Homo sapiens: one gene and its partners. The protein of the gene in region 1 purifies or fractionates together with the protein of each later gene. This does not show direct contact. Each region holds a gene or a part of one and is shown on either strand. Other genes may lie near its edges.

What was found.
Region 2: the proteins of CD109 (region 1) and PKP1 purify together in Homo sapiens (affinity purification with mass spectrometry; one large-scale study listed by BioGRID and IntAct). This does not show direct contact.
Region 3: the proteins of CD109 (region 1) and CLCC1 fractionate together in Homo sapiens (co-fractionation; one large-scale study listed by BioGRID). This does not show direct contact.

What each region holds. Positions count from the first base shown.
Region 1 is NC_000006.12:73,699,075-73,702,702, reverse strand, and holds part of CD109 (CD109 antigen isoform 1 preproprotein), read right to left. Parts: intron 1-3,628. UniProt on the Homo sapiens protein: Modulates negatively TGFB1 signaling in keratinocytes.
Region 2 is NC_000001.11:201,289,925-201,293,552, reverse strand, and holds part of PKP1 (plakophilin-1), read right to left. Parts: intron 1-3,628. UniProt on the Homo sapiens protein: A component of desmosome cell-cell junctions which are required for positive regulation of cellular adhesion.
Region 3 is NC_000001.11:108,935,938-108,939,565, forward strand, and holds part of CLCC1 (chloride channel CLIC-like protein 1 isoform 1 precursor), read right to left. Parts: intron 2,372-3,628; exon of another isoform or gene 2,229-2,371; intron 1,482-2,228; coding exon 1,140-1,481; intron 1-1,139. UniProt on the Homo sapiens protein: Anion-selective channel with Ca(2+)-dependent and voltage-independent gating. Permeable to small monovalent anions with selectivity for bromide > chloride > nitrate > fluoride.

The DNA.
Region 1 (3,628 bases):
CCACAGCCACACAACCACTAAGTGGAATGGCCAGCACCTGTGCCCAGGTAGCCAGGCTCCAGAGCCCAGGCACATCGTGATTATGCTGTGGTCCTTTATTCTCAGGTACCACCTACCTGTTAATATACATCACACACAAGAACAAAGACGATGTGTGAATGAAAAGCCTACACCCTTTAAAAATAATTCTAACATAACTGCAGGTTCAGACTGAGTTATGTTGGCAAAGCTGCCTGTGAAAACCTGCTCTGGGAGATCTGCCCACACACTACACTAATTAATCTACTTTCATAAAGACCATGGGACTGATTTTTATCTACGAGGCATGAAATGCATGTTCAGGAGCTTTGTTTCCACCAGAAAACCATCCAAACCAAATTGGATGATTTTTTAAGTTTTTCAGCTAATATCTCAATTTTTAAAAATTTCCCACCCTTACTGAGCCAAGATGGAAAATAAAATATATCATAGTCAATGTGAGAAAGACAACAAAGGAAAAAATAGATTTTTTAAAAAATCTTTAAAAAAAGGTTAACACTCCATTAACTCTCCAGGATTTTAGGGCAAAAAGAAAAAGCGAGTTACAGACACATTTATAGAGCACATTCCACCCCAGTAACTCAATGGGAAGATGGAAGTAGGATTGGCAGCATTTAAAAAATGGTGCCCCCAAACCAGCAGGCACTCACCTGGAGACGCCCATGCAGAGTTCCCAAAATTTCAGTAGGCATTTTCAGTTTAGGTTTTTGGGAGTTTTTGGTTTTAAGGGTTCTTTTGTTTTTGTTTTTGAGATAGAATTTCACTGTGTTGTCCAGGCTGGTCTCAAACTCCTGGGCTCAAGCAATCCTCCCACCTCAGCCTCCCAAGCTCTGGGATTACGGTTGTGAGCCACTGCACTCAGCCTCTAGCATTTTTTCTTAAATCAGGTTTACATGAAACTAATGATGATGAATTCATTAATGAGGGAGAAAGGTTATATTCTTTATTACTTGAAGTGACTCTTGTTCAGGAAAACTACTGAAAGTTTACAAATGAAAATGTCAAATTGTAGCAAGAGAAGGGAAAATAAAACAGAAATTATGGTTTCAAGGACATCACGAAAATTAAATTATTTTATATGCCTTAACAGATGAGAGGACAGTTCTCAAAATGTTCTTAATTTCTTTTTTCTTGATTTGGCAAGGAACTCCTTTCACAGTAAGGAAAGAGAAAAAAAATATGGGAAGAGACAAAGGGACAGACTCACTCTCCACCCAAAACAGTAATCTGACTTGATTTTAAATGCCAATAGCTGTGCCATCTTCTTTCCTCTGGTAATTATTACCTGCTGAACTTTTACTACGTTTTGCCAGTTATGTTTATTTAACTAACTCTTTATGCAAAGGAAGATAAGATTAGGAACATAGTTCTAATCACTATGGAGCTGATGGCAATGATGCTGATAGTGGTAGAGGCAGTGACAGTGGTAACAGTGACAAGCAATCTTTTGAATCTCACTACTAGAAAGGCATTGATACACCTTCCCAGAACTCTGCAAAGTGTAGCAGAAATACTTTTTCTAAAGGTCTATTATTCACCAAAAAAAAAAAAAAAGCCCATAATCGCTGGGCACGGTGGCTCACGCCTATAATCCTAGCACTTTGGGAGGCCGAGGCAGGCAGGTCACGAGGTCAGGAGTTCAAGACCAACCTGGCTAACACAGTGAAACCTCGTCTCTACTAAAAATACAAAAAATTAGCCAGGCATGGTGGCACATGCCTGTAGTCCCAGTTACTCGGAAGGCTGAGGCAGGAGAATCGCTTGAACCAGGGAGGCAGAGGTTGCAGTGAGCCGAGATCGCACCACTGCACTCCAGCCTGGGTGACAGAGTGAGACTGTGTCTCAAAAAAAAAAAAAAAAAAAAAAAAAAAAACTACAATCAATCCCCAATAAATGTAGAATTAATGTATTTTTAAATGAATAACAGTAATATAACCTACACTCCTGGCCATAAAAGTGGAAATGTAAATAAAATCTCCCCCATATCTGTCAAACAAACAAATGAACTCTTCCCTGAAGAAATGCCATACTTTTTCACCTTTATTAAATACATTCTCCATTTGAACAATTTAGTTATTACTATTTCCAACACAAATTGAGCCAGAAATCTATTGTGGTTTGGGTAAAACACCTCCCTATCCTGAGGATTTCTAAGAAATCCAAAACTGCTGGAAATAAGCTACTAAGACACAGTCTACTGCCTTACCCAACTTTACTAGAAGATAAATCTTTATTAAAACCAACCTTCTGTTGGGGGGCTGGGGGTGGCTCATAGGAAAATGAAACAATCAGGCTCATACCCATAATCCCAGCACTTCGGGAGGCTGAGGCAGGAAGATCGCTTGAGCCCAGGAGTTCAAGACCAGTCTGGGCAACATAGCAAGACCCCATCTCTACAAAAAAAAAAAAAATTTTAAACCTAGCATGCTGGCACTTGCCTGTAGTCCCAGCTGATTCAGGAGGCTGAGACAGCAGGATCACTTGAGCCCAAGAATTCCAAGTTGCAGTGAGCTATGATTTCACCACTGCACTCTGGCCTGGGCAACAGAGTGAGACTCTGTCCCTTAAAAATAAAAGGTATTTATTTGTTGGTGTTTGGTGTTTATGTGATGGAGAAAAAACAAAACATGAATCCACATCCAGATACTTGAAGATCCAGACCCCTGATTTAGAAGTCCTGGTTTATCTACATATTGTTACAACTGGAGAAGCCAGATAAAGCAAAGGATGTGAAGACAAGCAGGGAGAAGTGTCTTGATCCTCAAGTCCTCACATTACAGGAAGCATCTGCTCTGAGAACAATAACTCCCAGCCTCTGATAATACAGTAACATTCTCCTTTGAAACAGGAGAGTGCTCCTAGCAATGGCATTTTCAATGAAACTCTATGTCAATAGAGTCAAAAACAGCCCATGAAAGAAGCAGCGTTTTCCCTCCTTCCTTCCCACAGATCCATTCTGCTCCCAGGACAGCTTTGCCCGCCCCAGTCTTGAGTACTTGAACTTTCCTATGGGCATACAAGGAACCCTTCTCCCAAAAGAAGATCTAAGAATAAAGCTGAAAACCAAGCCACAACAACATGCACCCCAATGTAGGTACTATTTGTTGCAAAAAAAAAGAGAGACTGATAACAGAGATCACAGAAAAGACCTAACAGGTGAAATTCTAGAATTAGAGTATGTAAATGTCCAAGCAAAGCTCAAATATTTATCAAAAACATCCATATATATTCTGGATCTCTGCATTGCAGGAAAACTGCCACACTAGTGGAGCCAATATTATAAATTCTTTTTTTTTTAACTTTTATTTTAGTTTCAGGGATACACGTGCAGGTTTGTTATATAGGTAAAATGCCTGTCATAGGGCTTTAGTGTACATGTTATTTCATCATCCAGGTGATAAGTGTGGTACCCAATAGGTGGTTTTTTAATACCCTCCCTCTTCCCACTCATAAATTCTTAATGAATAAATAATGAATGTGGAACTACCTTAAGTATTATGTCCTGTGATTTAATATTTCAATATTTTCTTTAGCGACTATCATAAGATCAGGGGTCATTCATTTTCAGAAATGATAGTCCAATAACGAA
Region 2 (3,628 bases), on another chromosome or scaffold:
GACAGGCAGGATTCCGACATTCCCAGTCCAGCAGCAACAGCTGATTAGAGATTGATTCAGGACAGGACTCTGGATTCAAATCTCAGCCCAGCCCCTACCAGTGACCAAACTTCCTCCCATTCTTTCACCTCTAACATGCTCTGGCTGGTGAAGGGGGAGCGGCGATCAACCTCAAAGGCCCAGTGAGGATTAATTAATGTTTTCGGAGTGCTTGGAGACCCACAAATGACAGGCTCCGCAGGAGGACAGAGTGTCATTAGGGTTATTAGTGGCAAAGTGGCTTTGCATCACAGAAAACAGAACTGGATTTGGGGCTCCTAGTGGGGCCACCCCCCTCATCTCCCTTTCACTGGCCAGCAGGGACACCCTAAGGGATAGCATCAACTCTGCACAAGCTGGTCTGTTCACTGTCCTGCTGTCCTTGAAATATGGCCAATGGTGACAGGCTCACCACTTTACTCACATCTCCCTCCATGCCAAACCTGCCTTCCCTCCTTGGCCACTACCTTCTAATCTTGCTCATCTTTTGAAGCCAAGCTCAAGACCTCACCCACTCCAGGAAGCCCTTTCTGATCAGTTCTGCACAAGGCAATCTCTCCTGCCTCTAAACACATACTGTCCTGCTCTTGGTAGCCCAAGTCTCATTCTGCCCTGCGTCCCATTCCCTCAGCTATACTGGGAGCTCCACGAAGAGCAAGCCATGGCTCCGTGGCCTGGCCCACACTCTTGTTAAGTGATGGCCTTGGGGGATGAAGGTGAGTGGGATCCAGTGAGAGCCTCCTAAGAGGGATATGCACTCCTTTTCTCTAAAGCGATGGTCAGACTCCCCCATCGGAAACCCTGTCTGTGGGGAAGAGAGTTGGGCAGTGATCTCACCCAGCCAAGGTAGCTCCTCCCCATCTGCCACACCCACTTAGGCTCCCCGGCCATTGCCTGGGGGAGCAGGGCTGGAATATCTGAGCTGGGAGTAGAGGGAATAGCCAAGGGGCAGCTTTGGAATGAGGCAGGGATCCCCACCTCGTGCCACCTCCCCTGTCCAGCGCCAGGTCACCACCCATAGCCCACAGCAGAGAGTGCTGCCCAACTCTCTGCACCCTTCCATCATGGACATTAGGGGTCTCAAGCTGTGGCAGACACAGCTTGCCCTGGGGGCCTAGCGGTGTTGATATTTGTCCTGGTTCTGGCACCTGGGCAAGTCACTTGCTCTCTCTGAGCCTCAGTGTCCTCTTCTGTCAAAAGAGAGGGTTGGCCTCTTACCTCCCATAGGCCCCGTACAGTTCCACTGCCCTGTGGTGGTGTGATGATAGTGACACGTGCCTGACTGCGTTCAGAGGAGCCGACTCCTCCTCTCCAGAGACACAGCTCAGCTTACAAGGAAGAAGGGCAGACATCAAAGGCCACACTACCGCCTCGTTTGCCACCTGCCTCAGGGTCCTCTGAGAGGCCTCCCCTATACTCCAGGCCTAGCCCTGACTCCAGAAGGGCCATCCGCCTATGAGCAACATCCTGGGACTCTGCCATGTGGCCCATTGAACCTCTGGCTTCCTCCAAGCTCCCTGTAGAGTGCACACAGCTCTTCCTCCACCTTTCTCCAGCAACCGCTCCTCTGGCAAGACTGTCCTTATCAGGAAGAGGCTGGAGGCAATCTCATGGGCTCAGTCACTCAGGACTGGTGCTCCCAAGGAAGGGGGCTGCAGCCAGGCACACTCATAGTCAGGACCCTAGGTGGCCAACCACCAGGTCTTGTCTGCCTCCCTTCCACCCAGCCCACTTTGATCATTCTTCCAAGGTTTGATAGGATAGAGTTCATTTGGATCTGGCCCTGTGAGCAGGTATTTCTCACCAAAGGTCAGGTGTGGGTCAGTCAGCTGCTTCTGGGTGGAAAATTTGGGGTGGTGACAGACAGAACTTTATGGAGCACCGGGGAGGCCTCCTGCTATGAGAAGCAGCCCCGGGGGGCTTGCACCAGGGCCTTCTTGCCCGTCTTCTGGGAGAGAACCTGTCAGCATGATGCTGCTCTCCCCATGGGTCATCAGACTAACCATCTCCTCCCGCCACACCCTGCACCTGCCTGCCTCCCTCTCATACACTCTTCTCTGTATGAAGGTAGAGGCCTCTCTGCCATGGAGGTGGCAGTGGACACACAGACACATGGAGGGAGAGGCCAGAATGCCCTGCAGTTCCCAAAGCCAGTCCCCATGTCCAGCATGAACTCTGGTAAAGGCAGGTGTGACTGTCACTCACTTGTGGCCTGCAGGCCCTTCCAGGCAGTTCCTGAAGGCATCTCCTAAGACCTATCTGTAGTTGGGGTCTGCTTGGCTCTGGTGAGAATGAGGGTAACATCACACCTGCCTGCACTGCTAATCTGGCAGAAGGTGACAGTATTTGGGGCGGAGGTGGTGAGAGAGGGGAAAAGTCCATAGTTGTCACACACCTGAAATCACAGCTCGCAGTGTGCCAGATAACCAAGGAGTACTGGGGGCAGGTGTGCTCTGTCTGTAAGAGCACTGCTCCCACAACAAAAGTGATTTTCCCTCTCTTGACCCTGGGGTGTCTGACTGGTAAGTAATGCCCTCTAAAAGTCAAGTTCAATAGCAAGAGCATGGGCTTCTAATGAGTGTAATGGTGCTAGCTCACTCTTCCACTTGGTCCCCGATGTCTCTAGAATGCACTTCTAGGAAGCCTTTCCTGATGAATGACGCCTACTCCCATCTCCATCTCACGCCCGTACAAGTCTCCACCACCATGTACTTTGGACACTCTCTGAAGTGCGAACCATGTCTTTCTTTCCCTGGGACCTTGAGTTCAGGGCATTGCCCCAGCTGGGTCTGGGCCTGACTGGCTTGAGCTGGCTCTTTGCGTCAATGACCTCTTCTCCCTTGCCCAACCCTTGTGGTGAACGTGCTCTGATGCCTGGTGCTTAGAGGCTTAGAATGGGGTCAGGCTCTCCTCCCACTCAAAGAGGTCCCTGGTGAGTGGGGTAAACCAGGAAGAGAGGAGGGCTGCTGCAGCTCTCAAATACCCAAGGCCACCTCCTTGAGGAGGATTCTTAGTTCCTGGGGAATGGGGGAGGGGCTAGTTCCCAGCTCACCCCACAGAATCACTCCTACCCTCCAGCTAAGCATCTGCTTTGCCCCTCTTCTCCCCATATGGGTGCATGCAGCATGAGCAGGGATGTGGTGGCTTCTCGGTGACACTGACAGTGTGCCCAACCTGTGTGCCATCCTCAGGAAGCATCTGCCCACCCACAGAACCCCAAGGTCAAGGAGCAAGTGCCTCAGAGCATCTGCCACTTTCCCAGGTATACAAGCAACACAACCTGCTCTGTCCACATAGCTCGTCTGATTTTACATCCGCGTTTTAGGGTGTAAAACCATCTCAGAAAATCTACCGCTCAGGTCACCAGTGTCCTGGCACACTGCTTCCCTTTGGTGCCTTAGACAACGACAGGCTGATTCTTTCTTGTGTCATCGGTGCAACTCAAGCTTTCTCGCCTCAAAACCTTTGAAACTGGAGGCAGCTCCTTCTTTAGGATGAGTGGAAATCTCTCTCCAGTAGGGGCAGGTGAGCCTTTGCAGGGATGACTCATCCTCTTCCACCTCCAAGCTTTCAAATAGGTCACACTTAC
Region 3 (3,628 bases), on another chromosome or scaffold:
GATGTGGGGGAAGGGGAGACCAAGGAGGCTTCCAGGCCATTGTAATACTGGCTTTCCCCTCAAGTGAGATAGGAAGTCACTGGAAGACTTCTGAGATAGGTGACAGGTAATTACTAACTATAAAAGCTGGAAGGACCATCTTAAGTTGTTTTTTTTTTTTTTTTTTTTTTTTTGAGACGACGTCTCACTCTGTCACCCAGGCTGGAGTGCAATGGCACGATCTCGGCTCACTGCAACCTCCGCCCCCTGGAATCAAGCAATTCTCCTGTCTCAGCCTCCCAAGTAGCTGGGATTACAGGTGCATACCACATCACGCCTGGCTAATTTTCTTGTATTTTCAGTAGAGATGGGGCTTTGCCACGTTGGCCAGGCTGGTCTTGAACTGCAGACCTCCAGTGATCCGCCTGCCTCGGCCTCCCAGTGCTGGGATCACAGGCGTGAGCCGCCGCGCCTGGTCCATCTTTCTAGATACATGTAGATATGTTTATTTTTATATGAAACTATGGGAAGGGATTCTATAATTTCCCAGATTCTATTATGCTCATAACTGTTTCAAAGGTTTAACAGCTGCAATTTAAACATTTCAAATGACAATACAAATTCCTCTCTCAAACAGAAATGGAAATGTCCCTTTAAAAGACTGATAATGGTGAAAAACTTCTTCTTACCATTCTACAGGTAAAAAGTATAGTCTAGCCAGCCAATGACACTGAAGATTTGGGGAAGCAATGTTTTTGATCCCTGGCCCCAGCCCACTCTTCCATCCAGCTAATCCTTTAGGGCTCTACTGTACCTTCCCTAGAGCTCCGGGCCTTCAGTGATGCCTTCTCTCTGATCTCTTCAAAGATAGAAATTTCTGTCATGCTCATACGCTGGCTTCCCATGAAGGTTCATATGAATTACCATCTGCTCTAACAAACTACTGTTAAATTGTATTTTACATAAAAGTTAAATCTAATTTTATTTCTTCTGAGGAAGCTGAACTAACTTTTGACCAGAAAGGGGAGAGAGTGAGTGGCTGTATCACTCATGATATAATTAAGGGTGAGGGGTAAAAGAGTAAAAACAATCAGACCTCTTCCAGAAGGATTTAGAACCAGTAATGAAGGGACAGCAGAATAAAAGAGTTGCTGACTTACACTGGGTACCACCGTGGGATGCTCTCGTGCCTCTGCGTCTGGTACATCAAATGCCCGGAGCACTTCAGGGCTCTTGTTGCCAGTCTGAAATCTCAAGTCAACATCTCTCTCTCTCAAAATCTCTCTTCTACCCTCATACGTTTTGGCATAAGGGCCTTGCTCAGTGGGGCCCATTTGGCCCCTATAATGGAAATCGGCATCACCTGCTCCACCATCAGGTCTATAATCAATTTCCTCCTGCCGTCTTCTATCCCGTGGCCGAAGTGCCTGGGGAGGTTCGCTCTCAGGACCGCCTATATGTCTCAGCACATGAACTGATTTTCCAGCACCATAGCAGAAACTCTGTAAGGAAAAGAAATACATTTTCCTGAGGACTCAATGGCTAACTTACAAAAGTTATGAGGCATTTTATTCAGAGTGCTAACAAAGTTATGTAATTTAACTTACTTGTGGCATTTATAGACATAAACATGTTAATTTGACTTTTTTTCATTAGAGACCTCTTTAGATTAATACAAGGCCAGAGTGGCCAATAAAACTTAATAAATCTTTCAGTAGACATTTTAATCAGCTAGACACATTTCGATTGAACTATAACAATGGCAGGCTGAAGCCTAGATATTTAAATTAGAAGGTTCTAGTCTGATAATTATTCATGTTTCTAGATTCATGCCCATCATATAAGGTAAATGCTGAAAATATTTAAAGTTGTATATCATTATGTAAACAATCTTCTGTACATTTTCTTTTTACAAATATAAACTAGGCTTAAGTTACAGCTAAAATTCAACAGGTTTTGATTCACATTCCATGGGAAAAAGTAGGCAGCAGTTCCTTACAGTGTGGCCCAGGGACCCCCGGGGGATACCTGAGACTTTCAGGAGATCTATGAGATCAAAACTTTTCATAATACAAAGACATTATTATTTGTCTTTTTCACTGTCCCCTCCTGAATATACAACGGAGCATTCCAGATGCTAGAGTGACAGCCTCACTCAGACTCAGGGGATGCATGCTTGCGTGTACAGTACTCGTATGTTTTAAATTTGTTTTAACTCCTAATATGTAAGTATCAATAAATATAATCACCTTAAGTAAGAGCTGTTTGTGGGCTTCAATTTTTAAGACTGCAAAGAGGTCCTGAGAACAGAAACTTTGAAAATTTCTGTACTAGTTTTTCAAACACTACTATTTGAAGACAAAAGCAGCAAAAGTCAAAGAGCATAACTTTCCTGAGGGAGCACATGAAACAAAAACAGATGGTGAAGACTCTGCTGATAATTTCAGTTTCAGAGACTAAACTATGACTATAGAACTAATGTCACCTAACAAAAAAATACCCGTCAACCACATAATCCTGTAATCACAAGCCAAAAAACAAAACCAAAAAAGAAACGATTTCAAAGTGAACAGAGATAGTGAATCTTGTATCCTTAGGGAAGAGAATTTCCCTTGGCACATCTGAGTTCTTTTTGTTTTATGCGACAACTGCTTTACTTGGGTAATAGCTAAAAAATCGATAACAAAAAACACTGAATAGACCATGGAGGGATGACGAGTAATATTTCTTCTTAATGTCTGCTCCTGGATCCCCAAACTCTTTCTCAGCATACCCATGTTCTTCCACATCCCTTTCTGGTTCTGTGTCAAACTCAATGCTCTACCCTTCTCACTGCTGCAAAAACTGACTAGAAATAAGAAGTCCCCCTTTCTGGGAGACAGAAATCAACTTCCTATTTCCTGTGTATTAATTTACCAAGGTTAACACATTTAAAAAGAGGTTATTATTCTAAATCACTGCTATGACATATGCAATCAAACTAGAGAACTACTTTCTTGATTATAAAAATATACAAGTAAGTATAATATGTCTGTATCATTTAGAGGGGCAGAGGGGAGGAAAAAAATCTGTATCACTTAAAAATCGCCTTCTCATTAAGCGTGACTTAGCCTGATTTACAACATCAAAGAAGCCCAATAATTTTAGCATTGCCTTTTTTTCTGTAAATCTTGCTAAATATTGACAGTGCTAATATTTAATACTAACCAGTATTACTAATATTAATACTAAGATTTAATATAAATCTTGCTAAATACTGACAGTGCATATATATATATAAATATAAATATATAATATATAAATATATATTATATATAATAAATATATAAATATAGACAGATATATAAATATAAATATATATAGATAGATATATAAATATACATATATGTATAATTTTTTTTTTTTTTTGAGACGGAATCTTGCTCTGTCGCCCAGGCTGGAGTACAGTGGTGCGATCTCGGCTCACTGCAAGCTCCGCCTCCCAGGTTCACCCCGTTCTCCTGCCTCAGCCTCCCGAGTAGCTGGGACTACAGGCGCCCGCCACCACGCCCGGCTAATTTTTTGTATTTTTTTTAGTAGAGACAGGGTTTCACTGTGTTAGCCAGGATGGTCTCGATCTCCTGACCTCGTGATCCGCCCGCCTAGGCCT